Regions from separate parts of the Homo sapiens genome. Here all the other regions are reported to be linked to region 1. The links are microRNA targets in miRTarBase. Many come from high-throughput screens and were not tested one by one. Region 1 holds a microRNA gene; each other region holds the end of a gene's coding sequence.
The links. Region 1 holds the annotated microRNA hsa-miR-6832-5p (AGUAGAGAGGAAAAGUUAGGGUC, at 6,964-6,986, opposite strand). A microRNA usually pairs through its seed, bases 2 to 8, with sites in the 3' UTR of a target mRNA and lowers its output. Matches are read on the target gene's strand: a 7mer-m8 pairs with bases 2 to 8, a 7mer-A1 pairs with bases 2 to 7 and ends in A, and an 8mer does both.

Region 2: miRTarBase lists MIOX as a target of hsa-miR-6832-5p. Seed matches in the 3' UTR shown: 7mer-m8 at 3,493-3,499.
Region 3: the mRNA of NTMT1 is a reported target of hsa-miR-6832-5p. The part of its 3' UTR that is shown has no 7-base or 8-base seed match.

The regions. Positions count from the first base shown.
Region 1 is chr6:31,631,050-31,640,777 of GRCh38, reverse strand. It overlaps MIR6832 (microRNA 6832), which reads right to left and starts at 6,991; the gene lies at 6,920-6,991. PRRC2A (proline rich coiled-coil 2A) reads right to left here. Exons shown (of 31, transcript NM_004638.4): 16 at 7,786-9,639; 17 at 7,131-7,399; 18 at 6,789-6,919; 19 at 6,413-6,542; 20 at 6,221-6,306; 21 at 5,801-6,025; 22 at 5,506-5,646; 23 at 5,313-5,384; 24 at 5,029-5,196; 25 at 4,729-4,811; 26 at 4,359-4,569; 27 at 4,170-4,268; 28 at 3,833-4,045; 29 at 3,642-3,736; 2 more. The coding sequence ends at 3,192. It overlaps BAG6 (BAG cochaperone 6), which reads left to right. Exons shown (of 26, transcript NM_001387994.1): 22 at 74-133; 23 at 250-393; 24 at 472-579; 25 at 1,132-1,278; 26 at 1,552-1,750. The coding sequence ends at 1,647. RefSeq lists a silencer at 5,936-6,099.
Region 2 is chr22:50,486,956-50,497,613 of GRCh38, forward strand. MIOX (myo-inositol oxygenase) reads left to right here. Exons shown (of 10, transcript NM_017584.6): 2 at 430-510; 3 at 707-787; 4 at 931-1,093; 5 at 1,320-1,387; 6 at 2,085-2,194; 7 at 2,273-2,340; 8 at 2,442-2,491; 9 at 2,577-2,689; 10 at 2,793-3,693. The coding sequence ends at 2,901. Among named protein-coding and RNA genes, the nearest start is that of MIOX, 5.4 kb to the left of the region's middle.
Region 3 is chr9:129,631,721-129,641,668 of GRCh38, forward strand. It overlaps NTMT1 (N-terminal Xaa-Pro-Lys N-methyltransferase 1), which reads left to right. Exons shown (of 4, transcript NM_014064.4): 2 at 930-1,145; 3 at 2,334-2,586; 4 at 3,488-4,415. The coding sequence starts at 984. The coding sequence ends at 3,744. It overlaps ASB6 (ankyrin repeat and SOCS box containing 6), which reads right to left. Exons shown (of 6, transcript NM_017873.4): 2 at 8,821-9,002; 3 at 7,682-7,788; 4 at 7,482-7,590; 5 at 6,853-6,939; 6 at 2,885-6,737. The coding sequence ends at 6,070. Among named protein-coding and RNA genes, the nearest start is that of ASB6, 5.5 kb to the right of the region's middle. RefSeq lists enhancers at 1-421, 8,377-8,934, 8,935-9,491.

The DNA.
Region 1 (9,728 bases):
GGGCGATGGGGTCAGGGTACTTGAGAGAACTGGAGAGATCTGAGAGGAAGTATGGTGTTCTTTAATTTCACAGCCACTTCCTGAGGAGCCAATGGAAGTTCAGGGAGCAGAAAGAGCTTCCCCTGAGCCTCAGGTACTCTAGAGAGGGGGAGGTTGAGGGGCCAGATAATGTGGAGTGGAGGGCTGGGGGAGAAAGGTTTGGAGGCTAAAAATTCTGAAGCCTGGCTCTTCCCGCCATCTGACACCCAGCGGGAGAATGCTTCCCCAGCCCCTGGAACAACAGCAGAAGAGGCCATGTCCCGAGGTCCACCTCCTGCTCCTGAGGGGGGCTCCCGGGATGAACAGGATGGAGCTTCAGCTGAGACAGAACCTTGGGCAGCTGCAGTCCCCCCAGTAAGTGTCAGGAAGTAATCCAGTGGGTCATGGCAGCTGAAAGTCAAGGACATTACTATTTTCTCTTTTCCTCCCCAGGAATGGGTCCCTATTATCCAGCAGGACATTCAGAGCCAGCGGAAGGTGAAACCGCAGCCCCCTCTGAGTGATGCCTACCTCAGTGGTATGCCTGCCAAGAGACGCAAGGTTGGTTTTCCTCTTCCCTAAGCCTCTCTCTCTATCCAGGTTTCCCCGTCATGCCTGGAATCAAACTATGTAGAGATGGTGGGAGCTCTTGTTATTCAGTCTCCCCTCCCCTCGTTTAATGAGGAAACTTTTTCTGGGATTCAGACTTGCTCTTGGTTGTTGCATAACCATACAGGACTTGACCTTAGTCTGTTTGCTAGCAGTCCTGTATTAGTTGCTCAGCTGCCTAATCCCCATGTGCTTAGATCCCATTTTCCTTTAAGGTGGGTTTCCTCTTGTGGATTACCTAGCTCTGAATCCCGGATGGCTTGACCCCTTCTGCCTTTCGTTTTGAAGAGCACGTTCAAGCACATTCACTTTAGTTTTGGCTAGTGCCAAAGAGAATTAGGAAGGCATTTCTGCTGTAAAAACCACATCCTGGACTCTTAATTTCCCCTCTCTCCACTAGCATGGAGACTCAGTGGAGTGGTTGACTCATGGAAAGGGTGAGCCGGATGGTGGCACTGGATCTGACGTTGATCCTCTTTTCCCTCCCAACCCCCTGTCCCCCAGACGATGCAGGGTGAGGGCCCCCAGCTGCTTCTCTCAGAGGCTGTGAGCCGGGCAGCTAAGGCAGCCGGAGCTCGGCCCCTGACGAGCCCCGAGAGCCTGAGCCGGGACCTGGAGGCACCAGAGGTTCAGGAGAGCTACAGGCAGCAGGTGCCACCTTGAAGCAGAATAGGGATGGTCTAGTGGGAGGGGTTGGGCTAGGGTCCCTCTTCCCTGGATCCCTTCAGCGATGAACTGGTCAGCCTGGTGCTACCATTTGTTTTCCCCTTTGGCATCTGGGAAGGCTTGACAGTGCCACCCCGGGCTATTTGACAGTGTGCTTGGGGGGGGAAATGTTAGCTTCTGAGGGATGGCCTTGTGTGCTTGCTGGGATCATGGGGACTTGGCCAGCGTTTCTCCAACCTGCTTACTTTTTCTCTTTAGCTCCGGTCTGATATACAAAAACGACTGCAGGAAGACCCCAACTACAGTCCCCAGCGCTTCCCCAATGCCCAGCGGGCCTTTGCTGATGATCCTTAGCTCTTTGCTCTATGGCCCTTCCTCATCAGGGGACCGTTTCCCCCCTCTTCCTTCACAGTATTTAAGAAATAAAAGTCGGATTTTTCTGGCTGCTTTCTCTCTACATTGTCTCCATTAGGTAGTGTGTCCCTTAATCTTGTGTGAACTTTTTTAAATTAATACTTCCTTGGAACACTGTTGTGTTCTACTCAGCACGCTAAATTGTACAAGCCAGTTTTGATGTTTGTTTTTTTTTTTTTTTGAGACAGAGTATTGCTGTCTCCCAGGCTGGAGTGCAGTGGCCCGATCTCGAGCTCGGCTCACTACAACCTCCACCTCCCGGGTTCAAGTGATTCTCACTCATGCCTCAGCCTCCTGAGTAGCTGGGACTACAGGCGTCCGCCACGACGCCCGGCTAATTTTTGTATTTTTAGTAGAGACAGGGTTTCACCATATTGGCCAGGCTGGTCTCGAACTCCTGACCTTGTGATCCACCCGCCTTGGCCTCCCAAAGTGCTGGAATTACAGGCGTGGGCCACCGCGCCCAGCCTGATGTTTGTATTTTTTGTGCGAAAGCACTTTATATATAAATAAAAAACCTGTATTTTGAGTTGGGAGCATATTCCAGGTGCACACTAGCATAGAGCTCTCAAATTACCCATCAAAAAAAGTTTCTGAGCAGCTGCAGACCTAAGTATAGTCTTTAGCATAACTAGCATGCAGCGTTACCATGTGAAATCCCACTTAGTTTGACAATGCTGGAATTGGTCTATCCAATTCAAAGAGCCCCTTAAGTGTGCTCCAACATTGAGGCCTTAACAGAGATTTCCCCTTAGTTCATCATAAAGAACTGAAGTCCCATGGCTGCAAATTCTTTGCTAGTCCCTTTGAGATGCAGTTGAAGTCCCTTCTAAACCCCCCCATCCCCTACCTTGGCTAGTTTAGTGCTCTTATCAACTAAGCATGGCATAAGCTTAGAAAATTCCAGCTAGACCTCTTGGAACATGAGCTCACGGACATTTAACAGGCCTGCTGGAGAGTCCATGTGAAGACACTGGTTGATAACCCAGTAATGTTACAGATGTCCCACCAAGGCCCTAGATATGCAAAGGAAGCCATATTGGGACCAGCCCAGGTGTCAGCTGCAGACTGATAACCAGTTGACCTCGCTCACTGGCACAAAAAAGCAGATTTATCCAGCTGAGCTCAGCCCAAATTCCAGACTCACAAAAATTTAAAGATCCAATACGATGGTCATGTTTTTAGTTTCAACAGCTCACTGGAATAAGTAATGAATATTTCCCTGACTGAAACTACAGATCACTCAGCACCATGCTTTAAGACAATGCAAACAACTCATCCCCCAAATCATTGTAGAAGTTTTTTTTTTTAAATCCTTTTATTACTCTTTTTTAACAAACAGCCCCAGGGACAGGGGACCAGGGGAAGGGGGAGGAGGGGAAGTGAGGCCCCAGCCCCAGAACCCCTCCCCGCCCACCCCTTTCCCCCTTATATATTTATAATCTATATACAAGCCCCGGGGGTAGGGGGCAAGAGGAACTCCCTCAGCGGGGTGGGGGCAACCCAGGCTCCTTGTCCCCTCGGGACCCAGGCTCCTCTGCCCGTCGGGAGGGCCCTTCTCGAGGTGGCGGCCCTGTCCGCTCCCAAGGCTTAGGTATCCAGCGCAGGGCATCTGGTGGGGAGGCCTAGGGGACAGGCATGTGTTAAACAGTGAGTCACAGTGAGAGGTCAGCGATGAGACGGAAGGACAGGAAATCAGGTGGCAACTCGAATTTAGAGTTGGGGCCACAAGGGTTTCTCCTTCACCTGCTGGTAAAGGTCGACGCGCTGGGTGCGGAAGACTCCACTGTAGGTGGAAGGCGTGGCCTTGAGACGGGAATTGAGGCCAGAGAAGGACCTAAGGGAAGAAGGGCGTCTAAGGCAAGCCTAGGATCCAGACCCTGGTTCCAAAGTAAGGAAGCACTTGGAAAGTCCACATCCCTATTCCGTTTCACCTTCCAGTTGGGGGAGTCCGTGATGATCCAGGTCCCCCAAGGTTGCTGCTCAGTTTTTGATAATCCTGGAACGGCTTTAGTTCCACTGGATGCAGCTGAGGGGAAAAAAATCATGAGCTGCCTACCTTGAAATACAGAATCCCTACTCCCAAGTCTTGGCGCTCCCTAGCCCCTCAGTTCCTGTACCTTACCTCTGCTCGCCCCAAGCTAGCGGGGAAGGGCCTGGCAGGTGAAGGCAGCACCCGAGTAGCAGGAGCAGGTGGGGGCCGCACAGCCAGGCTGGGGGGCTGCAGAGCAGGGCCCACAGGTAACAGAGAAAGGGGAGGTGGGGCAGGAGGTGGTGCTGGCGGCAGGGAGCCAAAGTTCACCACAGGCAGCTGTGAGTCTACCATGGGTAGAAGCATCTGTAACAAGAAATTTGGGTGTGCATGTTGGGGGCAGGGAGGAATGTCAGAAAACCAGGGAAAATCAAAGCCAGCAACTGGACAGAGAAATCAAATGAAGGGGAAGTGTGAAGATACAATATACCTGCTGGGCAGGAGCCCCTGAAGGGAGAAAGCCACTTTGGCCACCAGGCTGCAGAGGAGTAGAATAAAAATCCGAAGGGGATGGCAGATCCTGGCGTACCTGTCGGGAAACAGGGAGAAATATATCAACCCCCACAAAATCATTCTCCCTACCCTATCCCCCAATATCTAATACCTGCCCCCCTCTTACCTGAAGCAACGATGTGTCAGGCAAAGGACTGGGGCAGAAAGCCGGAGAGTAGAGGAAGGAAGGTGGAGGGTAGAGAACTCCTCCAGCCGGCAACTTCCCCAGCTCTGTAGCTTGCATTGTGGAGAAATCCAGAAACTGGCCCTTGAGAGCTAACCCAGAGAGCAGTGCTGAGGGAGGGGCTGGGCCGGGGGGTAGGTATAGGGGCTGTGATCTGAAAATAAATTGTGGGGAGAAAAGCTGTTAGGAAGCCAGAGTCCTAGCAATGCCTTAAGTCCACTAGCTTCTAGTACCCTAGAACTGTGTCTTCCCCTTCCCTCTCCCCGAAACACATCTCCAAGTACTTCTGTGATCCACAGGCATCGAGTCTTACCTGTAAGGGTGCAGTGAGGGTGTCCCAGGGCGGAAGCCTCCACTGTTTGGATGTAATTGAGAGTCCATGGCTCCCCCAGAGATCTGCAGGAGAGGAGCACGGTTGAAACAGCTTTAGTATCTGTGGTCAAGAAAAAAGATCACCATCCCACCCATAGAAGCAAAAAGTAGGGAGAAAAATGATGTGACAAAGTGGTATCTCACAACTCTGCAACGTAGAAAGGCTTGATTATAAATACATACCAGGCAGAAAAAAATTATTATTCACTGAAGGGGTCATGCAATGGGAAGCGGGGCCTACCTGAGAACTGGAAGGCCCAGCACTGCCATAGAAAACCTCAGGATACAGGCGCTGGCCTGAGGAGCTGGGCTCCGGGACACAGTGCCCAGAATCCAGGTTCTTGGATTGTGGCTCAGCAGAGGCAGCAGCACTGGGAAGCAGCTCCCAGTCTCGTGATACAGGAATGGCCTGGGAAGGAGAGGCCTCGTGGAGAGGGATGTCTGGCATCCTGGACGCCCTGGTCACTCCCAGCAATCTTCCCCAGAAATCTTGGGCCTTTCCACCAAACTCTTACTCCCACTTACCTCAGTGACTGATGCTGTTAGCTCCTTCTCTGCTTTCAAGCTGTCTCCTACCACTAGGCGTAAGTCTGAGTCCTGTGATCACAAGAAGGCAGGAGACATTGTCCCGTGACAGACATGTGTCCTCTATGTCCCACCTTTAGTCCTTCCCTTCTCTCCACCCAACTCAGGATACCCAGATCCAGCCCACACAGACCTTGTCACTAGTGCCAAACTGGACTGGGGGACCAGGTCGATGGGATGGCCGAATGGGGCCAGGCTCTGTGCCTCGGTCTGTACGCTGTGATCGTTCTGTGCCAATGGGGCCAGGGGGCAGAGGCTGCTCCCGGGGCAGCTCCTGGATTGGGCACACAGTAAAGTGCATTGGGGGAGGGAAAGGGAAATCCAAATTGGAATGCCCAGAACACACACGCAGAGAGAAAAAGCAGAAAAAGGTAGGGCCAAAGTCAGATTCCTGGAAACATTCCCCTTATCCTTTTTTGGTCTTTTACCTTTCTGTCCCCATCGTGGGGGGCAGGTGGTGGTCTCCTAGGAGGTTCAGAGCCAGGTGGACCCTCACAAGGAACAGCATTCAGGGGTGAGGAGCCTCCAGGCCTCTTGGGGGGTCCCTCTGCTGCCCCCTTGAGTCCTCCATCAGGGGAACTTCGCTGGCTGCAGGGACCTGATGACACCTGAGAATCCCCACTCAGGTCCACCCCACTGTCAGACTGACTCATCTGAGAGGAGTGGAGAAGGAGCTAGTTAAGTCAGGGTAGAAAGCACCCCAATACCTGACTGATGCACACATACAAACTGCAGAAAGGGGACAGCCAAGTGAGAGAACAGCTCCAGACTCAACCCAGAGCAGGTGGGGGGTATGACCAGTGCTCAAAAAAGTCCCAGCTCAGACACACCCTCCCACCCTCACTCACTTCTGTGCCAGCCACATCCTCAAAAGGACTCAGGGGCTCCATCCAAGGCTCCATGGAGCTGGGCCGGTAACTCTTTCGGCTAGTGGCTGGAGAAGGGAGCACCAACCAGAAGAGAAGTGAGGAGATGACAGTTCAGAAGCCCCTCTCATTCTTAACCCTTCTACCATAGTCCTTTCACTCAGCTTTACTCACCAGTATGTAAACGGTTCCAGATGTGAGGGGTCAGGGCCTCTGTGCCTGTATCTCTGGACTCTGCCTGAGGGCCTGGGCCCTCAGGCTTAGAGCCCAAGAATCCAGAGCTATGAGGAGGTGGCAAAGATTCCTACAGATGAGAAGGGCCAGAAGCAAAACATGAATTGGGTGGGAATTGGGAATTATAGGAAGCCAGGACAGAGTGGGGTGACACAGGGTGTGGGGACAACAAGGGAGACACATGGGAGACTAATACTGAGAATTCTGGAGTAAAAACACAGTGAAAGAAACAGGAAAGAAAACAGAGAAAACATAACCCAGAAGAATTTTCACGAGTAAGAGTGCAGTGAAGCACAATCTCAAACCCATCCCTTACCTCCTGTAGCAGCTCTGGTTTTCTGGGAGGCCGCTCCCGACGTTTAGGGGGAAAGGGACTAACCCCGGCAGAGTCCCGAGGAGTCCCACCCACCCCTCTCACCATTGGCCCCGGCTCCTCAAAGTGGGGGTCTGGGAAAGAGAAAAAGGGTCAGCATCTGCCTGGCTCTGCCACTGACCCTAACTTTTCCTCTCTACTCCACCTCCCAATTCTTCTACCCTTGCTCCCTGCAGAAACGCACCCAGCAGCAGGGTCCCTAGGCCAGGTTCTCCACCCGCTCCCTCCAGCACTTGACCTTCTCTGGGGATGGAGATATTCCCACCCATAACCCCTCCAGCTTACCAGAACTGAGGCCGCTGTTGACCCTCTGGGGCTCGTATCGGGTTGGGGGCCTAGGAGAGGGGCCCTGAGGGGCTTGGGGAAGCCCAGGCTTGTGCCTTGGATGACCCCCTGGTGCAGTTACACTCCCTTGACGGCTACTAAGCTGGGCCAGAGCCTGTTGGATGCCAGCAGGGTTGCTGTGGATAACTTGGTCCAGGCGGAAGACAGCAGAACTGCTGGGAGGTGGGGGAGGCAGGGGAAGCCCCGGGGGACGCTCCTCTGGAGGACGACTGGAGAAAACAGAGCATTAGCTCCAGTATCCACTAAATCGTTACTTTTTCCCACAAGTTATGTTTCCCAACTTCTGCTTACAACCTATTCTCTTCCCTATTAAAGTCCAGGTGTTTTTGAGTCCTTCTAAGGATTCCTATGCATACAGATGCACAGACTGGAAAGCAAAGAACCAGCAATGAATACATAGGTGGGTGTTCTTGACTCTAACACCCTACCAACCGCTTTCCAGTTGCCTTAGCCAGACATGGAAATCCTACTGACATTCTAGAGCCCATGGCCCCTCAGGCCACAATCTCCACTCCACCCAAACTTATCTTTCCCTCAGGCTTTTTCCCCCTCCTCCAATTTTTAAACCACAATAAATTTGTTTGTTCCTACCCACCTTCGGTTCTTGGGAGAGGGCCAGCTCCTCTTGTCGCCTCGTCCTGGCCCGGTCCTTCCTCCAGGACCCCCACCGCCTCCTCCACTGCTGCTGCCACTGCTGCCAGCCTTGCCCCCTGGGCCAGGGCGCCGATTCTGCCGTTCCATGCCTGGCCGCTGACTTGAGAAGCTCCGTTTACTCAAATCCTTGGCTCTCTGGCTCAGATCTCCGCGGGACATGGCTGAAATACCTGGTACGGCTCCACCTCCACCTCCCCCAGGAGTTCCCACAGCCTTGGGTGTCAGCAGTACTGGTGGGGGTGCCTCTTTGTCCCCTCGGCGCTCACTGGTGAAGTCACTGCTCTCTGATGCAGTCTCCCATTCCTCATTGGCTTGGTCTGAGTTCTGGTTTGACAGATCAGGAGACTTGGCAGCTGCCCGGCGAGGTGCTGGGGCCACTGTGACTGTTGTGAGGGCCTCCTCAGGTCCAGGAGCGGAGGCTGGAAGGGTTAGGGAGGGCTTGCCCTCAGACCCCCTTGCGGCATTCTCCCGTTCCTGCTTCAGCCTCCGGAAACGAGGCGGTTTATCCTGCTGCTGAGCCCTCCCATGTCGCCTCCTTCGGGGTCGCTCCCCATCTTCCATGCCCACATTGCTACCTCCATTGCTGCCTCCGCGCGCCACAGGGGACAGAGGCCCTGGGATCAACTTCTCTTTCAAAGGCTCCTTACTTGGTGGCAAAGGGCCTGTGGGAGGTTTCTTGGGAGCCAGAGACTTGGCTGGAGGGCTCCAGCCTGGGCAAACTTGAGGAGGGGGCCTCCCTCCTCCTCGGCCCCGGCGAGATGGCACCCCTCTGGGAGTGAAGACTCGCCCACCCCGGGCAGTGAAGCGGGCTGGGGCTGGTGAAGGTGGGGCTCCTGGTGGTGGGGGAGCGAGAGGGACCTGGGTGAGTGTTCCCTCCTTGGGTGTGGGAGCCTCCTTGTCTGAAGGAGCCAGATCACTCTCATGGGTCTCGCTGCCTGTTTCTGAGCCCCGCTGCCGGCGCCGCTTGGGGATTTCCTCATACTCTGAACCCTCGCTCCGTGTCTCGCTGGCAGTGCGGCCTCGGGGAGCAGGAGGGTGGTTTGGTCCCCCTGTCCCACCTCCACGCCCATCATCTCCTCGAAACTCTCGGTAACTGCGGAATTCCCGGCTTCGGGCTCCCCGCCCTCGTCCCCCATAGGTCCCCCGAAAACCCCTCCCTCTGGCAAAATACTCGCCTCGGCCCCGACCCCGGCAAGAGGTAGGACCCACTCTTTCATACGAATAGTCCCTCCGAAGCCTTGGGGCAGGGGAAAGATTTCCATTGGGTGGGGTCTCCTTGGGGCCCCCTAGCTTCCCCTTGGTTATCTTGAGTGGGTCTGGCTTTGGGGGTTTGGGGGTTTCATCCCCCTGTTCGAGGGGCTTGGGAGGCAGCTCTTCTACTTTTGTAGGTGGTGGAGGTTTCTTTATAGGCCCAGCCCGGCGGGGTGGGGCCCCTGGCTCCTCTGGAGGGATTCCACGACGACTGCTCCCTGGACGAGGGCCCCAGCGGGTCTCTGTGCGACTCTCTCTGCGTGGTGGTGGGGGGCCCTGGCCTCCACTCCCGACTCCGCGGGCAGGCTTTCGGCCTGCTTCTGGCCCCGTCAGCTGTGCAGTCTCCTCCTTAGGGGGCTCCTTCTTGGGTGGTGGAGTTTGTATCTTGGCCACTTCATCACTGCCTGGGGGCCAGGGGAGTGGACGGGGCCCTGGTTCCTCCAGAGGAAAGCGAGAGATTGGGGGCCCAGGGGCTCCATTCTCAGGAAAGCCTGGATAACTGGCCAGATAGGGTGGTGGGGGAGGTACTGGAGGAGTCTCGCTCCTGAAGAGACAGACAGAAAGAATGGAAATAAGTATCTCAGGAAAACCAGAACTAGGTGGGAAAAGAACACTTTATTATGATGCAGACTC
Region 2 (10,658 bases), not on the chromosome of region 1:
TCCTGGTGGCCAGCCACTCCCGCCCTCTTCTAGCTGGCACTGGCCAGCCCTCCTCCTCCGTCCAGCTGGGCAAGAGCCAGCGGCTGCCGACCCCCAGGCTCCCTGTGGACTCAGTCTCCTCCCAAAGCCACTTCCACCCCTCAAGGGTGGCCATGGGTGCCGCTCAGGCGTGGTGTCCCCTGTACCCCGGAAGCAGACGTCTGCTGACTTTCGCTTTGCAGATGAGGACCTGGGAGTGAGAGCTCCTGGGACTCGCTGAGGCCAGGGCAGGGGCTGGGATGATGGCGTGGGAGAGGCTGTGTCCTCGCGTGTCACCCACCAGCCCTCGAGCAGAGGCAGGCTTGGAGTCTGCAGCCACCCTGGGAATGTCTGTGCTTCCTCGTGGAGCTGACATGATGGTGAAATAGGTTCAATCCTCCACCTACCCAGGGCCCAGACCCTTCCCTGGTCTACCGACCTGATGTGGACCCAGAGGTGGCCAAAGACAAGGCCAGCTTCCGGAACTACACGGTGAGTACCTTGCCGTCCTGCCCCCCTTCTCCCCCATCCACACCCTGGGGAGCAGCACTTGCCCTTCACACAGTTCCAGGGGGTGCCCTGTGGGAACTCCCACCCCCATCACACCCTGTGGGGCTGCCTGGGAGAGGGGAGGCATGGGGCCTCGTGTGCAGGGTGGGGGTGGCGCCACTGACCCTCCGGCCTGCAGTCAGGTCCCCTCCTGGACCGTGTCTTCACCACCTACAAGCTCATGCACACGCACCAGACAGTGGACTTCGTCAGGAGCAAGGTAGGCGTTTCCTGCCGCCCCGTGCAAACGCGGAGGGACCCTTGCCCTCAGCCCCATGAGCCCACCAGGCGCCGAGGGGATGGAGAGGCCTGTGTGGTGGGCCTGCTGACCCTGGGCCACACTGCCTTCTCCTTCCCCGCCAGCATGCCCAGTTTGGGGGCTTCTCCTACAAGAAAATGACAGTCATGGAGGCCGTGGACCTGCTGGATGGGCTGGTGGATGAGTCGGACCCGGACGTAGATTTCCCCAACTCCTTCCATGCCTTCCAGACAGCGGAGGGCATCCGGAAGGCCCACCCAGACAAGGGTGAGCCCTGGCTGTGCTGCAGGGGGGCAGGTGCTGCCTCCAAGGGGCAGAATGCAGCAGCCTGTAGGGTGGGAGGGGACAGTAGTGGGCCCAGGCCTCCTCCAGCAGCCCTGCCTGGGTTGGGGAGCAGGCCCTGGACCCTTCCTGGCTCTCAGCCCCGCAAACCTGCTCATCCTCTGCCTTGGCCCCTGCAGTCCCCAACCTGCCCTGTCCATCCCCCTCCCAGACTGGTTCCACCTCGTCGGGCTCCTGCACGACCTGGGGAAGGTCCTGGCCCTGTTCGGGGAGCCCCAGGTAAGAGTTGGAAGTGGAGGGTGAGGAGGCTGCATGTTGAGGCAAGGTGGGGGTGGAGTGGCCTTGGTGCTTGGCCTGGGATACTACCTGGGGGACAGGCCAGTGCACCCCCCACGGCCCCCCGACGGCTGCCTGTCCCTCTGGTGGCCTCGGTGCTTGGCCTGGGATACTACCTGGGGGACAGGCCAGTGCACCCCCCACGGCCCCCCCCACGGCTGCCTGTCCCTCTGGTGGCCTCGGTGCTTGGCCTGGGATACTACCTGGGGGACAGGCCAGTGCACCCCCCACGGCCTCCCCGCACCACTCCCCCCACGGCCCCCCATGGCCGCCTGTCCCTCCTGTCACTCTGCAGTGGGCGGTCGTCGGCGACACCTTCCCCCACTTCCCCCACGGCCCCCCATGGCTGCCTGTCCCTCCTGTCCCTCCTGTCCCTCCCATCCCTCCCGTCCCTCCTGTCCCTCCCGTCCCTCCCATCCCTCCTGTCCCTCTGCAGTGGGCAGTCATCGGCAACATCTTCCCCCACTCCCCCCATGGCCGCCCGTCCCTCCTGTCCCTCTGCAGTGGGCAGTCATCGGTGACACCTTCCCCCACTCCCCCCATGGCCGCCCGTCCCTCCTGTCCTTCTGCAGTGGGTGGTCATCGGCGACACCTTCCCCCACTCCCCCCATGGCCTCCCGTCCCTCCTGTCCCTCTGCAGTGGGCTGTCGTCGGCGACACCTTCCCCGTCGGATGCCGTCCGCAGGCCTCCGTGGTTTTCTGCGACTCCACCTTCCAGGACAACCCTGACCTCCAGGATCCTCGATACAGGTGCTCCCTGCTGCTGAGGGCTGGGCCCCCTTCCCTGGGCGGCTGCTGAGCCCTCCTCACCCTGGTATCTCACTGCAGCACAGAGCTCGGGATGTATCAGCCCCACTGTGGGCTCGACAGGGTCCTCATGTCCTGGGGCCATGATGGTGAGGCCAGAGGCGGGCAGTGGGGCGGTGGGGGGCGGTGGGGGACGGTGGGGGGCGGTGGGGCAGAGGCAGTGCCTGCTGGTGACACCCTCTCCCCACAGAGTACATGTACCAGGTGATGAAGTTTAACAAGTTCTCACTGCCCCCTGAGGTAGGTGGGGGGAGGGGCAACGCAGCCCGTCCACCAGGCCCGGTCCTGCAGCCCCAAGTGAGCCGCTGGGTGGCCTTGCCCGCAGGCTTTCTACATGATCCGGTTCCACTCCTTCTACCCCTGGCACACGGGCCGCGACTACCAGCAGCTGTGCAGCCAGCAGGACCTGGCCATGCTGCCCTGGGTGCGGGAGTTCAAGTACGCCCCGCTACCCGCCGAGGGGTGTTGTGGGAGTGAAAGAGGGGGTTGGGTGGGGGGCCTGGGGGTTCTTCACGGGGCTCACCGCCCCTCCCTGCTGCAGCAAGTTCGACCTCTACACCAAGTGCCCGGACCTGCCGGACGTGGACAAGCTGCGGCCCTACTACCAGGGGCTCATTGACAAGTACTGCCCTGGCATCCTGAGCTGGTGACCCTCCTGCCACCCAAGCTGCTGCTGGACCTAGGCCTGGCCCTCCGCCTGCCTGGAGAGGCCTGGCCCTGGGCAAACAGCCGCCATCAGGGTTCACCTCGGTGGGGGACCCCACTCACCCCCTTAGGGTCGCCACCCCTCACGGCAACTTGTGCCTGGCGTCAATAAAGACCTGGAAGGATGTTGTGCTTCTGAAGCCCCACTGGGTGTTACTGCAGCAGGGCGTGGCCCAGGCCGAGGGATGGTGCCAGCAGGGTGGAGGCCAAGTCCCAGGCTTTCAGGTGTGTGTGTCCCACCACACTGGCCGTGGTAAACATCTGCCCATCCTCCCAGCTCCTGTGTCAGAGCCTGGGGGACGAGTCACCCAGCTCACCCCCACATGCTCAAAACAGTCACCAAGTCCTCTGGGCTCCGTCCCCTTAAAAAATACCCCAATAGCTAAAATAATACATTCATAGAAAACAACAAAAAACAAATGCAGGCTGGGCACAGCGGCTCACACCTATAATCCCAGCACTTTGGGAGGGCGAGGTGGGCGGATCACCTGAGGTCAGGGGTTCAAGACCAGCCTGGCCAACATGGTGAAACCCCGTCTCTACTAAAAATACAAAAATTAGCCGGGCGTGGTGGTGGGCGCCTGTAATCCCAGCTATTCAGGAGGCTAAGGCAGGAGAATCGCTTGAACCCGGGAGACAGGGGTTGCCGTGAGTCAAGATTGTGCCACTGCACTCCAACCTGGGTATCAAGAGTGAAATTCCATCTCAAAAAAAATAAATAAAATAAAATAAAACAAGTGCACAGTTTAAATGCTATAAAGCAAACACCTGCGGCCACCACCCCTGAACCGACTCTCCAGTACCCTCCGCATGCCCCGGGTGCGGCTCCCCGCACAGAGCAGCCCCTCCACAGGCTCTGCAGCCACCGTCCATCCTCTCTACATGGTTTTGTCACCCAGGCGTGCAGCCCTTGGTGCCAAAGAGTGGCCTCCCCTCCATCTTCTCTGAAATTCATCTCTGAAGAAAGTAGATTGTCCCAGGAAATTCGTCTTTGTGGGGATTCTGTACCTGTTAACGTTTTCCTCTGAACTTCTGCCAATCGGTGCACGGATTTAGAGGCTTCCCCAGATCCTGTTTGGTTGGTTGTGGGCACGAGTGCTTTCAGGCAGTGGTGTTTCCTGAGGAAGAGGCATGCGGTGCCTGTCCTGAGTGTTGTCAGCGGGCAGCTGTGGGCGTTCAAGCTTATCCGGATCCCCCACTCCCCTGGGTATGGAACAGCCCAGGTCACTTTCTGTCCTCGTCCGCCGCAGGGAACACTTCAGGAAGTGGAAGTTGCCTCCCACGTGCTCTTTGGCTACACAGTGGCACTGTTCGTATAGAAAGGCAGGTCGATGTTTCAGTCCTTCCCTTAATTTTTTTTTTTTTTTTTGAGACAGTCTCACTCTGTCGCCCAGGCTGGAGTACAGTGGGGCAATCTCAGCTCACTGCAACCTCCCTCTCCCGGGTTCAAGCAATTCTCCTTCCTCAGCCTCCCTAGTAGCTGGGATTACAGACCCACGCCACCACACCTGGCTAATTTTTTTTTTGTACTTTTAGTAGAAACAAGGTTTTGGCCAGGCACGGTGGCTCACACCTGTAATCCTAGCACTTTGGGAGGCCGAGGCAGGAGGATCACTTGAGGTCAGGAGTTCGAAATCAGCCTGGCCAACATGGTGAAACCCAGTCTCTACTAAACATACAAAATTAGCTGGGCCTGGTGGTCGGTGCCTGTAATCCCAGCTACTCCGGAGGCTGAGGCAGGAGAATCACTTGAACCTGGGAGGCGGAGGTTGCAGTGAGCCAAGATCGAGCCACTGCACTCCAGCCTGGGTGACAGAGCGAGACTCCGTCTCAAAAAAAAAAGGCATTTTTTGGAAAATAGAAAAACATAATTCTAAAATTCCTATGGAATTTTAAGGGAACCCAAATGGCCATAACAATCTTGGAAAAAAAAAAGTTTACTTCTTGATGACTAAAGATAAAATAGAAAACATAAAAAGGAAAAAGATGTAAAAGAAACAAAATAATTAAAAGGTAAAAAAAGAACAACAAAGACTGGGCACGGTGATTCATGCCCGTAATCCCAGCACTTTTGGGAGGCCGAGGCGGGCGGATCACGAGGTCAGCAGATTGAGACCATCCTGGCCAACATGGTGAAACCCCATCTCTACTAAAAATACAAAAAATTAGCTGGGCGTGGTGGCACGTGCCTGTAGTCCCAGCTACTCGGGAGGCTGAGGCAGGGGAATTGCTTGAACCCAGGAGGCAGAGGTTGCAGTGAGCCAAGATTGCGCCACTGCATTCCAGCTTGGCAACAGAGCGAGACTCCGTCGCAAAAAAAAAAAAAAAAAAAAATTAGCCAGGTGTGGTGGTGGACACCTGTAATCCCAACTACTCGGGAGGCCGAGGCAGGGAGAATTGCTTGAATCTGGGAGGTGGAGGTTGCAGTGAGCTGAGATTATGCCACTGCACTCCAGCCTCAACGACAGAGCAAGACTCCATCTCCAAAAATAAAAAGAAGACAGGTGCAGTGGCTCACGCCTGTAATCCCAGCACTTTGGGAGGCTGAGGCCGGCAGATCACCTGAGGTCAGGAGTTCAAGACCAGCCTGGCCAACATGGTGAAACCCCATCTCTACTAAAATACAAAAAAATTAGCCTGGCGTGATGGCGGGTGCCTGTAATCCCAGCTACTCGGGGGGCTGAGACGGGAGAATTGCTTGAGCCTGGGAGACGGTGGTTGCAGTAAGCTGAGATTGCACCACTGCATTCCAGCCTGGGCAGCTGAGCAAGACTCCATCTCAAAAAAAAAAGAAAAAAAAAAAAGGCTGGGTGCAGTGGCTCATGCCTATAATCCCAGCACTTTGGGAGGCCGAGACGGGTGGATCATGAGGTCAGGAGAGCGAGACCATCCTGGCTAACATGGTGAAACCCTGTCTCTACTAAAAATACAAAAAATTAGCCGGGCGTGGTGGCGGGCGCCTATAGTCCCAGCTACTCGGGAGGCTGAGGCAGGAGAATGGCGTGAACCCGGGAGGCAGAGCTTGCAGTGAGCCAAGATCGCGCCATTGCACTCCAGCCTGGGCAACAGAGCGAAACTCCATCTCAAAAAAAAAAAAAAAAAAAAGAACAAAGTTGGAGGACTCTCATTTGTCAATTTAAAAACTTACCACAAAGCTACAATAATCAAAACAGCATGGGCAGGCATGGTGGCTCACACCTGTAATCCCAGCACTTTGGGAGGCTGAGGCAGGTGGATCACCTGAGGTCAGGAGTTCAAGACCAGCCTGGCCAACATGGTGAAACTCCATCTCTACTAAAAATACAAAAATTAGCTGGGTGTGGTGGCAAAAGCCTGTAATCCCAGCTACTCGGGAGGCTGAGGCAGGAGAATTGCTTGAGCCCGGGAGGCAGAGGTTGCAGTGCACTGAGATCACGACACTGCACTCCAGCCTGACTGACAGAGTGAGACTGTCTCAAAAACAAAACAAAACAAAACAGTGTGGCACTGGCTTTAAAGACAGACACAGAGATCAATGGGGTTAAATAGACAGCCCAGAAATAAACACTTCAATATATGGTCAAATGGTTTTCAACAAGGGTGCCAGAATCATTCAATGGTGGAAAGAATGATCTTTTCAACAAATGGGGCCAGGAGTGGTGGCTCACGCCTGTAATCCTAGCACTCTGGGAGGCCGAGGTGGGCACATCACCTGAGGTCAGGAGTTTAAGACCAGCCTGGCCAACGTGGTGAAATCCTGTCTTGACTGAAAATACAAACATTAGCTGGGCATGGTGGTGCATGCCTGTAATTCCAGCTACTGGAGAGGCTGAGGCAGGAGAATCATCTGAGCCCGGGAGGCAGAGGTTGCAGTGAGCCGAGATCTCGCCACTGCACTCAAGCTTGGACAACAGAGCCAGACTCCATCTCAAAAAACAAACAAGCAAAAACGAATGGTTCTGGACAAATAGAATATTCACATGCAGAAAAATGAAGTTGGGCCGGGCACGGTGGCTCACGCCTGTAAACCCAGCACTTTGGGAGGCCGAGGTGGGTGGATCACCTGAGGTCAGGAATTTGAGGCCATCCTGGCTAACATGGTGAAACCCTGTCTTTACTGAAAATACAAAAATTAGCTGTGCATGGTGGCAGGCACCTGTAATCCCAGCTACTCTGGAGGCTGAAGCAGGAGAATCGCTTGAACCCGGGAGGCGGAGGTTGCAGTGATCCAAGATCTCGCCACCGCACTCCAGCCTGGGCGAAAGAGTAAGACTCTGTCTCAAAAAAAAAAAAAAAGAAAAATGAAGTTGGACACTTACCTTACACCACATACCACATACAAAAATTAAATCAAAATGGATCAATGACCTAAACTTTTTTTGCTTTGAGACAGGGTCCTGTTCTGTCACCCAGGCTGAAGTGAAGAAGTGTGCCACAGCTGACTGCAGCCTCGACCTCCTGGGCTCAAGCGATCCTCCCATCTTGGCCTCCAGAGTAGTAGGGGGACTACAGGTGCACACCACCACAGTTGGCTAATTTTTATTTTTTGTAGAGACAGGGTTTCTCCATGTTGCCCAGGCTGGTGTCGAACTCCTGGGCTCAAGTGATCCTCCCACCTTGGCCTCCCAAAGTGCTGGAATAATAGACGTGAGCCACAGCGCCCGGCTGACCTAAACTTAAGAGCTAAAATGGCCAGGAGCGGTGGCTCACGCCTGTAATGCCAGCACTTTGGGAGGCTGAAGCAGGTGGATCTTGAGGTCAGGAGTTTGAGACCAGCCTGGCCAACATGGTGAAACCCTGTCTCTACTAAAAATACAAAAATTAGCCGAGCATGGTGGCACTTGCCTGTAATCCCAGCTACTCAGGAGGCTGAGGCAGGAGAATCGCTTGAATCTGGTAGACGGAGGTTGCAGTGAGCTGAGATTGTGCCACCACATTCCAGCCTGGGCGACAGAGTGAGACTCTGTCTCAAAAAAAAAAAAAACTAAAACTTTAACCTTCAGAAGAAAACAGAAGACAAGCTCCTTGACATTGCATTAGGCAATAATTCCTTGGATATGACACCAAAAGCACAGACAACAAAAGAAAATAGATAAGTTGGCCAGGCGCAGTGGCTCAGGCCTGTAATTCCAGCACTTTGGGAGGCCGAGGCTGGTGGATCACGAGGCCAAGAGATCAAGACCATCCTGGCCAACATGGTGAAACGCCATCTCTACTAAAAATACAAAAATTAGCTGGGCGTGGTGGCGCGTGTTTGTAGTCCCAGATACTAGGGAGGCTGAGGCAAGAGAATTGCTTAAACAAGGGAAGTGGAGGTTGCAGTGAGCCGAGATCACACCACTGTACTCCAGTCTGGCAACAGAGCGAGATTCCATCGCAAAAAAAAAGAAAGAAAGAAAGAAAAGTTTATTTTTCTAATTTTTCTTTTTCTTTCTTTTTTCTTTTCTTTTTCTTTTTTTTTTTCGAGACGGAGTTTCGCTCTTGTTGCCCAGGCTGGAGTGCAATGGCGTGATCTCAGCTCACTGCAACCTCTGCCTCCTGCGTTCAAGTGAATCTCCTGCCTCACCCTCCCCAGCAGCTGGGACTACAGGCGCCCGCCACCACGCCTGGCTAATTTTTTGTATTTTTAGTAGACACGGGCTTTCACCCTGTTAGCCAGGATGGTCTCGATCTCCTGACCTCGTGATCTGCCCGCCTCGGCCTCCCAAAGTGCTGGGATGACAGGCGTGAGCCACCGCGCCCGGCTGATTCCTCATTTTCAACCCAGTCTCTCTTGACCACTAAGCCAACTAGTTCCAGCTTTTTCTGAAGACAAGTCAGGTTGCCCTCCCAAACCTTCCCTCTTCATACAGGGGCCTTCTACCTGACCTCTGAGATTTCTCGCCCAGCACCTCAGCAAGGGCTTGTCTGATGCTGCTGTACTTTGTCTACCCCTCCAATCACAGGAGTCCGTAGTTCCTAGAAAATCTATTTTTGCTCCTGTCCCAATCCGCTGAATAAACTGTATACAAAATTCAGGTGTGGAATCTCATGTTGCTCCCTTTGGTCAAGTTACCTATTTTCCCAAGCCTGCATCTAAGCTTGATCCTTCTCCTGCTAAAAGCATCTTCGGCCGGGCGTGGTGGCTCATGCCTATAATCCCAGCACTTTGGGGGCCAAGGTGGGCAGATCATGAGGTCAAGAGATCGAGACCATCTTGGCCAACATGAGGAAACCCCGCCTCTATTAAAAATACAAAAATTGACCGGGCACGGTGGCTCGTGTCTGTAATCCTACCACTTTGGGAGGCTGAGGCGGGTGGATCACCTGAGGTCAGGAATTCGAAACCAGCCTGACCAACATGAAGAAACCCTGTCTCTACTAAAAATACAAAATTAGCCAGGCGTGGTGGCACATGCCTGTAATCCCAGCTACTCGGGAGGCTGAGGCAGAAGAATCACTTGAATCTGGGAGGTGGAGGTTGCGGTGAGCCAAGGTCGCGCCATTGCACTCCAGCCTGGGCAACAAGGCGAAACTCCATCCCAAAAACAAACAAACAAAATACAAAAATTAGCTGGGCATGGTGGTGTGCGCCTGTGGTCCCAGCTACTTAGGAGGCTGAGGCAGGAGAATTGCTTGAACCCGGGAGGTGGAGGTTGCAGTGAGCCGAGATTGCACAACTGTACTCCAGCCTGGGCAACAAGAGCGAAACTCCGTCCCCAAAACAAACAAACAAAATACAAAAATTAGCCGGGCGTGGTGGTGTGCGCCTGTGGTCCCAGCTACTCAGGAGGTTGAGGCAGGAGAATTGCTTGAACCCGGGAGGCGGAGGTTGCAGTGAGCCGAGATTGCACCACTGCACTCCAGCCTAGAGGACAGAGCGAGACTCTGTCTCAAAAAAACACAAAAAACAAAAACTTCCTGGCCAGGTGCAGTGGCTCACGCCTGTAATCCCAGCACTGTGGGAGGCCGAGGTGAGGGGATCATATGAGGTCAGGAGTTAGAGAACAGCCTGGCCAATATGGTGAAACCCCGTCTTTATTAAAAAAATAAATAAATAAATTAGCTGGGCATGGTGGCACGGCCTGTAATCCAAGCTACTCCAGAGGCTGAGGCAGGAGAATAGGTTGAACTCAGGAGACAGAGGTTGCAGTGAGCCAAGACTGCACCACTGCACTCCAGCCTGGGCGACAGAACAAGACTCCGTCTCAAAAAAAAAAAAAAAAAAAATCTTCCTGGGTATTCTCTCTGCCAGCTCTCTGCCCCAGCTTGTCCACGACCTTCTCCTCAATACACAAGTGTGCACCCCTGTCCAATCTCCCACTTAATTCACAGGACAGCTCTAGATCTCTGCTTACTTGCCAGACAGAGACAGTCAGACACCTGGACCGTGGCACCCACCTGTCCAACCTCGCCCAGCTCAGATCACCAACCTCATCGATTTCCTTGCAAAACTTTTGACTTCCGCCTTGGACTTTTGCCCCTTAAAATTTTATCTCTGCAGAGTTAGAATATGACATTGCTTTGTCGATACCATAATAATAAGGCTACAGTAAAGGGAGAGCTATTCCCTCCCAAATTACATTTTCTCTAGATTGGGCCACTCTTGCCATTTTAAACTTTCATTTATTTACTTATTTTTATTATTTTTTTTTGAGACAGCGTCTCGCTCTGTCACCCAGGCTGGAGTGCAGTGGTGCGATCTCGGCTCATTGCAACCTGCGCCTCTCAGGTTCAAGCGATT
Region 3 (9,948 bases), not on the chromosome of region 1:
CCGTCGCCCTCCACCTACTGCGCTTATTCTTGCCCATCCATCGGTTTCAGCTTACGCGTCCCCTCCTCAGGGATGCCTTCCCTGGTCCCCGCACCCGACTCCACTTCCTCCCTCCGTGCTCTGCTGGCACTGGCGCTTCTCCTCTGCAGCCCTCCCTGCAGGTGTGGTTGTGTCTGTAGAATTGTTTTCTGCCTGGCTGGCTGCCTGGTTCACAGCCCGGTGCCTGGCACAGAGTCCCCACTCCTTGTTAACGGAGGACTGGACCCCACCGTGAGTTGTTGCTGTGCTCTGAGCCAGAGGAAGGGAGGCGTGGAAGCTTCCCTGGCCCTCCAGGGTCTGCTGGTGCTCTCGGCTTTGCGGTCGTTTCTCTTTATTGATCAGGGTTTTCTGTGCCCTGAAGCCACTGAGTCAGGTGTCATATAGAGCATATCAAGAACTTGAAGCCAGGCCAGGCACATGGGCTCACACCCGTAATCCCAGCACTTTGGGAGGCCAAGGTGGGAGAATCTCTTGAGGTCAGGACTTCAAGACCAACCTTTGTAACATAGTGAGACCCCATCTCTACAAAAAATAATTAGCCAGGCATGGTGGCACACAACTGTAGTCCTAGCTGCTCCGGAGGGTGAGGTGGGAGGGTCTCTTGAGCTCGGGAGTTGGAGGCTGCATTGAGCTATGATCACACCACTGCACTCCAGAAAAAATAAAAATGTAAAAGAACTTGAAGCCAGGACTTGGGGCGGGTGCTCTGAGTGCAAAAGACAGAAGATGCTGTTATCCAAGGGGTAGAAGCAGATTTGGGGACCCTGGACTTCTCTCTGCACTCAGCAGGATGTGTGACTTGTGAAGCCTGGTGTGAGACTGGCCCTCTGCCCTGGGGGCCTTTCTGCCAGGTCCCTGGCCCGCTGACTCACGCCCCCTTCCTTACCCAGGAGAGTCGCGGTTGCTGATCGTGGTGCTTGAGTAGAGCCGTGGTTGGTGACAGCATGACGAGCGAGGTGATAGAAGACGAGAAGCAATTCTATTCCAAGGCCAAGACCTACTGGAAACAAATCCCACCCACGGTGGACGGCATGCTTGGGGGGTATGGCCACATCTCCAGCATCGACATCAACAGCTCCCGGAAGTTTCTGCAGAGGTTTTTGAGGGTAGGCAGGTCTGGCGTGCTCTCCAGGAGAGGCTGTGGCTCTGGTGGCACTGCCGAGTCCATGTGGGGTGCCACCTTTTACACATGTAACACTGCAGGATTGTTGGCTATCTCTTGGTACCTACCCCAAAGCCTTGAGGAGCTGGGCTGGGTGGGCACAGTGGGGTAACTTCTAGATTGTGGACTTAGCCTCAGGGTTACCAGACAGGAGCTGGCTGTTAGGCAGAATTGAGGTGCCTGAATTGGGCAAACCTCTCTTCAACTGTTGGGTTTTGCCAGGGACGAAACCCTTGCTCTCCTGCCATGTCCACGGGTGTTTGGACTGAGGGTGTTGGCTATTCTGGACGAAGACTCCTAGTTATGTGCCATGGTTTCCACCCTCTGCTCCACCCCCAGCCTTTTCTGTACCAGGCTGGGACCCCCAGTCCTGGAGCCCCCCACCTTCTTGTCTCATGGCTGGCACTGGAGGCTGCTGTTGGCCACCTGCTCCATCCAGCGCCTCCCCTCCCTCCATGTTCCCTCTCTGCACCCTTGTTCACCTGTTGCCCCGCTTCCATTCTCCCCATTCCTCTCTGCCGTTGTTTACCTGGAGACTCAGGAGAGATTAGTGCACCTGTTCAAGTTATCACCTTTAAGTGGAAATTAGCTTTCATTTAGAAATGTGTGGCCCAGGGCAGGGGCAGTGGCTCACTCCTGTCATCCCAGCCCCTTGGGATGCCAAGGTGAGAGGATTGCTTGAGCCCAGGAGTTTGAGACCAGCCTGGGCAACAGACCGAGGCCCCGTCTCTACAAAAAATACAAAAAAAAAAAAATGAGTTGGGCATGGTGGCGCATGCCTGTAGTCCCAGCTACTTGGGAGGCTGAGGTGGGAAGATGGAGGATGGCTTGAGCCCAGGAGTTCGAGGCTACAGTGAGCCATGATCCCACCACTGCATTCCAACCTGAACAGAATGCAGAATGCAACCTGAACTTTCAAAGATAAAGGAATGTGTGGCCCAGCAGTGTGTCCTCCCATGCTCATCCCCTCGACTCCGTACAAGCTGGCAGCCAGCACAGACCTCCCCACCAGTGCTCAGCTTGTGCGGAGTCCTGGAATCCTGACTTGAGTCTAAGTCCTAGGGCTCGTGAGGAAGGGCCGCACGTGCGGTGACAGGGTCCCTCTGATAGGTTATATGCCTCTGCTTTTCAGGAAGGCCCGAACAAGACAGGAACGTCCTGTGCCCTGGACTGTGGAGCTGGCATTGGGAGGATCACCAAGCGGCTGCTCCTGCCGCTGTTCAGAGAGGTGGATATGGTCGACATAACGGAGGACTTCCTGGTTCAAGCCAAGACCTACCTGGGGGAGGAGGGCAAGAGGGTGAGGAACTACTTCTGTTGTGGGCTCCAGGACTTCACCCCGGAGCCGGACTCTTACGACGTGATCTGGATCCAGTGGGTGATAGGTGAGGGTTCCACCGCCCTTCCCTGCTCACCTGTATGTCTCCTGCCACTCGCGTTCCCCATAAGGTGTCAGGACCAGGGCTTTGCACTCCTGCAGCAAGTGGGCCAGTGAGGATTCCCCACCCCGCCCAGGCCCACCCCCACCCCGTACTTCCCAGGACTGAGGGACAGGCTCGGCCTAAAAGGTAGATTTCTTCCTTCTAGGTTTTGTTTCAGTTGAATACCTGCTACCATCCATTTGGGTGCAGTTTTTTGTTGAAAAAATTTTAATGGCCAATAACTTACTGCATTCAAAGTGAGGAGTTTTATAAGGGTTTTATTTTTAATAAGATGAATAGTTTAAGCTTCGTGTCTAGCCCTGCACCCTCTTAGCCTAACAGCACACCTCGAGCGCTGTGCCCTGGGCTGCTGACGTGGCGGCAGGCCGCTAGCAGCAGTCGGCCACCTCCTGAGGCGGGCAGCACAGGCCTGCTGTGGACACTCTAGGTCTGGCCTTGTATTTTGTGGTCTCAGAAGCCTTTGTGGGGACTTCTAGTGTAGGGAAGGCAGTCTCTCTGGGAGCTCCTGCAATGCCAAACTCTTAGCCCAGGTTCACTCCTCCGATCCAAGCCTGGCAGGGGTGGGGCATCATGGTGTGTAGGTATCAGGCAGGACTTGTAAGCCATCCCGTCAAGTCAAATTCTGGCTTAATGTGTCTTTAGGTAGATGACCTCTGAGCCACAGTTTCCTATTCTATGAATTGGGGTTTAGTAAATCTCTCGGGACTGAGAGCCAATGAGGCCATGTGTGCACACAAAATGCTGGGCACAAATGAGGGGCTCAGCGGGGCTGAGAAGTACATCCCATCCAGTGCCGACATCCGCTTGCATGGTGCCCTGGTAACCTTGCCTCTGCCCTCCCCAGGCCACCTCACCGATCAGCACCTGGCCGAGTTCCTGCGGCGCTGCAAGGGCAGCCTCCGCCCCAACGGCATCATCGTCATCAAAGACAACATGGCCCAGGAGGGCGTGATTCTGGACGACGTGGACAGCAGCGTGTGCCGGGACCTTGACGTGGTCCGCAGGATCATCTGCAGTGCAGGCCTCAGCCTCCTGGCCGAGGAGAGGCAGGAGAACCTCCCCGATGAGATCTACCATGTCTATAGCTTTGCCCTGAGATGAGCCGGGGCTGGCAGGAGAAACTGAGGAACCACAGTCCTGGTGGGGGGAGCTGGCAGCTGGGCAAGATCCAGGCGCCACGCTGGCGGTTCGTGAGTGTCGAGGCACCACTAAATATAGCTGTCTGCCGTCCACTCATTATGCGGGCTCTTCTTCAAAAGGCAAGGTGGGACCCGGCGGGGAGGGTGCTGCTGAACCAGCGGTGAGGCAGGAGCCCAGACCCTGCTCTCCTGCGAGATGGGATTGGGTGGAAGGGGCTCCAGGGCTCCTGGTGCTCCCCATGTGGGAATAGGGTGGCCACATCAGTAACCGATTCCCTGGGCCTCCAGCCCGGCCTTCCAGCCATGGGCCTGGCTGCCTGAAGAGGAAGGAAACCACCCCCAACTTGGTTGCTGGGGACTTGAAGACTTCAGTGTGATCTTTACCTAGGGGAGGGACAGAGCTGGGCTGGTGGAGCCCATGGGTGCTGCCTGATGGTGCTGTGGGGTGGGTGCTCATGTGCCAAGTCCTGCTTGGCAGTGGAGACCTGGGGCCCTTAAAGTGTTACAACAGCCTGCAGCAAGGGAAGTTCCCCGTAGCCTCAGTCTTCTCTGGGCTTGAGGCTGCTCCTTGGCAGGCATTTAAAGTAAAAAATAAAATGGGGCTGGGCGCGGTGGCTCACGCCTGTAATCCCAGCACTTTGGGAGGCCGAGGCGGGCAGATCACGAGGTCAGGAGATTGAGACCATCCTGGCTAACAGGTGAAACCCCGTCTCTACTTAAAATACAAAAAAAAAAAAAATTAGCCAGGCGTGATGGCGGGCGCCTGTAGTCCCAGCTACTCAGGAGGCTGAGGCAGGAGAATGGGGTGAGCCCGGGAGGCAGAGCTTGCAGTGAGGTGAGATTGCGCCACTGCACTCCAGCCTAGGTGACAGAGCGAGACTCTGTCTCAAAATAAAACTAAAATAAAATGGGGGCCGGGCACAGTGGCTCATGTCTGTAATCCCAGCACTTTGAAAGGCCGAGGCAGGCGAATCACCTGAGGTCAGGAGTTTGAGACCAGCCTGACCAACATGGCGAAACCCCGTCTCTACTAAAAATACAAAAATCAGCCAGGCATGGTGGTGGGCACCTATAATGCCAGCTACTCAGGAGGCTGAGGCAGGAGAACTGCTTGAACCTGGGAGGCAGAGGTCGCAGTGAGCCGAGATTGCACCATTGCACTCCAGCCTGGGTGACAGAGTGTCTCGAAAAAAAAAAATAATAAAATGGGACCTCCACACTGTGGAGGCCCTTGCCAGTCTAGAGTGGTGCTTCTTTGCAGGGACTTGGAAACAACCCCCCAAACACAGCATCCCCTCACACCTGCCACCCACTTCCTTACCGGCTGCTGTGGGAGCCTCTATCCTGAACTATGGAGGGGCGGGGTGGAAATTTTATATAAGGACCTTGTTAAGGCCAAGAAAGTCAGTTTAATCTTATAATATAAATATATCATTTAGTCACCTCAGCTTATCCCCAGAGGTGTTTACACAATTCCCAATGACCAGTGCAGCTTGGAAGGGACTGAGGCTCGCAAGTGGGTGGCACAGTCGGCTCTTCAGTGGCTCCAAAGTGAGCCCCTCACAACAGGAGACACTTCAGAGAGGTCTGTCCCCAGCCACGCACTCATGATTGCTTTTTAGCAGAAGTCATGGTCGCTGAGGCCCTGGGTTTGGCAAAAGCACAGCTGCCAGCAGAGCACAGTTCTGGTAGGTGGGGCCACGGCTGACCTGGCCCCAGAGCTACAGGAACAGGCAGGGGCCAGCTTGGCTTGCAACACCATGAAACAAGCCTGTGGGGCCCTTAGTGTCTTCTCCCGCAGAGCCCACCAGAAACACTTCTGTGAGTAACAGAACCTGGAAGGAAAAGGGGCAGGGGTGGGGCCTTGGTGGCACCGCACAGGACGTGCCCCAGGCTTCCTCTCCAGCTGCACTGCCACGTGCGGCCAACAAGAGCCCCGCAGCCCTGGGGTGCTGAGGCTTGGTCCTTCCCAGCTTCTGCAAATGCCCTGGCACTGCCCTCCAATTCAGAGGGTATAAACATCAATCCAAGCCCTGTTCCTCTTTCCAACATGGGGGGGACTTGGAGTGCCGCTGGAGGGAAGGGGGCAGTCTCTCTGGAAGAACCAGAGCTGCACCCTTCACCACTGGAGTGATCACAGCTTCAGGCTCTACCTGGCTGGCTTTTCTCATGAAGGATCCCGTCTCATCTCCCAGATCAAAAAGACCCTCTTCTAATGCTGTCCCAGCATCTACCAACAGGCTGACCTGAGCTGCCCGTGTCCCCCGTTCCTGTAGCCTGAGACCTATCAGATGTCATCTTCCACGGAGCCACTGTGCTCGCTAAGGAGGTACCACTTCAGCCTGTCGGGCAGAGGCAGGGCTTTGACCTTCACATCCACAGGCCACGGCTGAAGGTAGAGCCGGATGGCCACACGGCACAGGTGCTTGAGGGGCGGGGGATAGCTCTCCAGCTGCCTCAAGGAGAAGTGGAGGGCCTGGATCTTTTCCGCCAGGCTGCCCACAGGGTGGATATCGAAGTTTTCGGGCAGCTGGAGTTTCTGAGAGTTGGTCACCATGAGATCCAGGACAGTCTCAGCTTTGCGCAGGAGGTCCGCATGGCTCTCGTCTTCCGTGCAGCCTGGGTGGGAACAGAGCCTCTCAAAGATGATGTGAAAGCCAGACCAGCAGGACGCACCGTGCAGGGAGCAGTTGTAGGCGGCTCCGGACTCCAGGAGGAAGCGCAGGAGAGGGAAGTGCAGTTTAAAGCTCTTCAGGCAGATGTGGGTGAGGGACTCGTGGGCTGGGCACTCGCTGGGGTCGGCCCCGTGTGCCAGCAGCAGCCGTGTGACTTGGAAGCAGAAGCGGTTGATCATCTGGGCCTCCTCTTTGTCCCCTCCCACGGTCTCACCAAGCAGGAAGATGATGCAGGTGAACACTGTGTCCCCATCTTTGGTGGTGGCCTTGACGTCTGCCCCTAGAAGAGCCATAGAACAAGAGATGCTGGGAGAAGGCCTTCAACCCTGGCAAAGCAACAGCACACATCGAAGGGGCGGGTGAGAGGACGAGGCCTAGGAGCGCGCCAGCCTCACCTCCTTCCAGTAAGAGACGAATGTTCTCAGTATTGTGGATCTGCACCCCGTCGCTGCTGGCCAGAGCATGGAGCAGAGCAGTTTTTCCTAGGGAGGGAGGGAGAGCAAGGAGGAGCAGGAGGCCAGGAAGCCCAGGTCAGGGCAACCCAGAGGAGGTGGCAGAAATCCAGACACTCAGAGGATCAGAAGATGAACTTTCAGAGACAACTCTCAGCTCAGGTGAGGGCTGAGGGTGACAGGCTTCTGGCCATTCCCTTTCCACCCAGAGAAGTGGGAGCGGAAAGGCCAGGAAAGGTAGGATTTTTCTGGACCCCAAGATGCTACCTGAGATGTTGGCTGGGCCTCTCCCAATGGGAAGCCATTGTTTCTTGGAAACTAAGTGCACACATGCCCTATTTCTTCCTATAGAAGGCCCTTGAGGGCCAGCACAGGGACAATGACTGCACTGCCTCTCTGAAGCCTCTGAGCTCAGCAAGTCAGCAGAATCCCTGTGTGCCCAGCCATGCTGTGCCACCAGCCAGGGCCAGCATCCAGTCTGCCCACCTAGCTGTTGTCCTGGGGCACCCTGGGTGTCCCCCACAAGGTGCCTGGGGGCCCAGCTGTCCTGCTTTCCTGCAGGAGGCACCCACCATGCTTGTCAGCGGCATTGACATCAGCTCCAAGGTCCAGGAGGCGCTGCAGGCAGGGCAGGCGCTCAGGCTCCTCGCTGGCCAGGTCCAAGGGGCTACTCTCGTGGATCTGAGCCAAGGAAGCACAGCCAGGTTGGCTTGGGAAGCTGCTCAGGCCCCTGCCCAACCCTGCTTCAAAGCAAGCTGGACCTGGCACTTACCCGGTCCCTCCGATTAACGTCGGCCCCGTGATGCACCAGCAGCTCCACCATGTCCGGCTGGTTCCGCAGGACGGCGATGTGCAAGGCCGTGTAGTAGGTGACTGGGTCTGAAGGTGCAGACACAGCTCATGTGGGTCCTATCTGTCCGCATTCTTATGGGGCCCCCGGACCCAGAGCCCAGCCCCAAACTCCCACCTAAAGTGTCCAGAAGCACAGGCCCAGCCTCCTGTCACCATCAAGGGTTAGGACAGAGCTGTCCTCACCAGATACTAGAGGGCCCTCGGGGTGTTCTAGTGGGCACGCTACTGAAGCTGTTGGGGGCTTTAGTTTCCTCTTCTGTAAGAAGGGACCATAAAACGGGGCGCACCCTCTCAGAATGGCTGGGAGGCCGCGCTACACAGCAGCTCTGGCGGCTCTGCTTTGTAGGCCTGGTGGTAACAGCCAGGTTCTCCAAGCTGGTCTCCAAGTCACTGGCTTCAGAACCGGCCCTCCCGTCTCAGCTCCTTGACCCTCCAGGAGCCCAGCAGACTCCAAGCCCGTCTTCGGATGGGGAAAGGAGACGTGCCTGGCTGTCTCAGGCCCCTATTAGGTCACAAGGCAGCCCTGCCTGTCTGCCGACTAACCCTGCCCTCCCTGGGCTGAAAAACACAGAGAAAGGAGCTCGGCTCCATCTCCATCCCTGGCACTCAGGAGCCAGGAGCCAGGGTGTCCTGTGGTGATTTATGCCTAATGCAGCCTGTTTTCCCCTCTCCCTACGGCATGAGAAAAAAAAAAACAAATTGGCTCAGAGTAAGTAGCAGAAAATTACCTTCCCTTAGCTCTGGGCACAGTGCCAGCAGCCGCATTTTTGCATTAATGGAAGTGGGGATTAATCTGGGAGCTGGGGAAAGTTTGCTAATCAATCACATGGTAGAAGCAGCAACACTCGCTCTTGGAACAGAGGTGGGAAGAGCCATGTGAAAACCCGCAGGGGGTGGGAGGCCACCCAATGGGAGTTTCCTTAGTTGCAGCCACCCAGGAAATAAAGGGGGGGAAGTCACTCCTCAGAGGATGGTAGAAGCCAAGGCTGGGGACATGGGCGCCCACCCAGCGTCGGGCCGCGTTTAAGCCACCTGCCCACCCCCGGGGCTCTCGCTGACCTTCAAAGTTGAGATTGGCCCCATGCCGCAAGAGAACGTCGGCCGCCCGCGTCAGCCCCAGCTCAGCCATCTTGAGCAGGGCGTTGCTCACGCCTTCCTGGTAAAAGGGAGAGTGGGCTTTCCTCTCCAGCAGCTCAGTGAGAACAAGGATTCGGCTCTCCTCGCTGGCGACATAACTGGGCCTGGGACAGGAGAGAGGCTGAGGGTAGGCACAGCTGTGGGACCGGGTGACCGCGCAGCCTGTGGGTTGGTGGGCTTTAGTCCTGCTATCATCATCAGCAAGCAGGGCCCTGGCTCTGTGGGTCACAGGGGCTTGGGGGAAGCTCTGAAGTAGAGAGAGGGCCACGCTGCATCTCTTAATACGGGAGCAGACTGGGATTTGCGGAGAATGGGCTGGGTCTGTCTGCGCTCTCCTCCCGCGTTGCCCAGAGTCCGGTCGCAGACTTAGGTACAAAGCCTCACACACCTGGGCTGCTGGGACTGAAGGGACCACCAGCCTGGAGGCCAAGAGCCCAAGCCCGACTTTGATGCTTCTTCCTCAGAAAGCCCTTCCATCCTCAAACCCGCAGGACCCCAGCCCCGGCAACACCTGCAGCCAGGACAGCAACACAGCCTCCTCCCTCCCCTCACATTGAGACCTTCAGCTGATATTGATGAAGAAAGCCTACGTTTCCACCAGAGTCCCTGGATGGCGAGACTCATCATTACCACGTGTTGGAAATACCAACTGACAACCCCCTCAACACCTGAGCCGAGCCCCTTCCTTCTGCTCTCCCCTCCCTTCCACCTCGCGTGCCGCCGTACAATTACTTGTCAGTCTCTCCTCTGGAGCACATGCGCCAAGAAGGCGGGGGTTTTGCTGAGCCACTGATGGACCCCAGGTGCCTAGTACCATGGGCAGTGAATGCAGATTCGCTCCCGACCCCTTTCCTGCAGGTCCACGACAGACCAGCTCTTGTCTATAAAAACGCAAACTCTGCTACAAAAGCCCACCTTCACACTGCTCTGGGGTAACATCTGAGGCCTCACGGATTCCACCCTGCTCCTCTGCCACGCCGGGGGGTGGCACAGGACAGGCAGGCGACAGGGTGGGGCTGAGGCGCAGGCCCTGCGACAACCCGCGGGCCT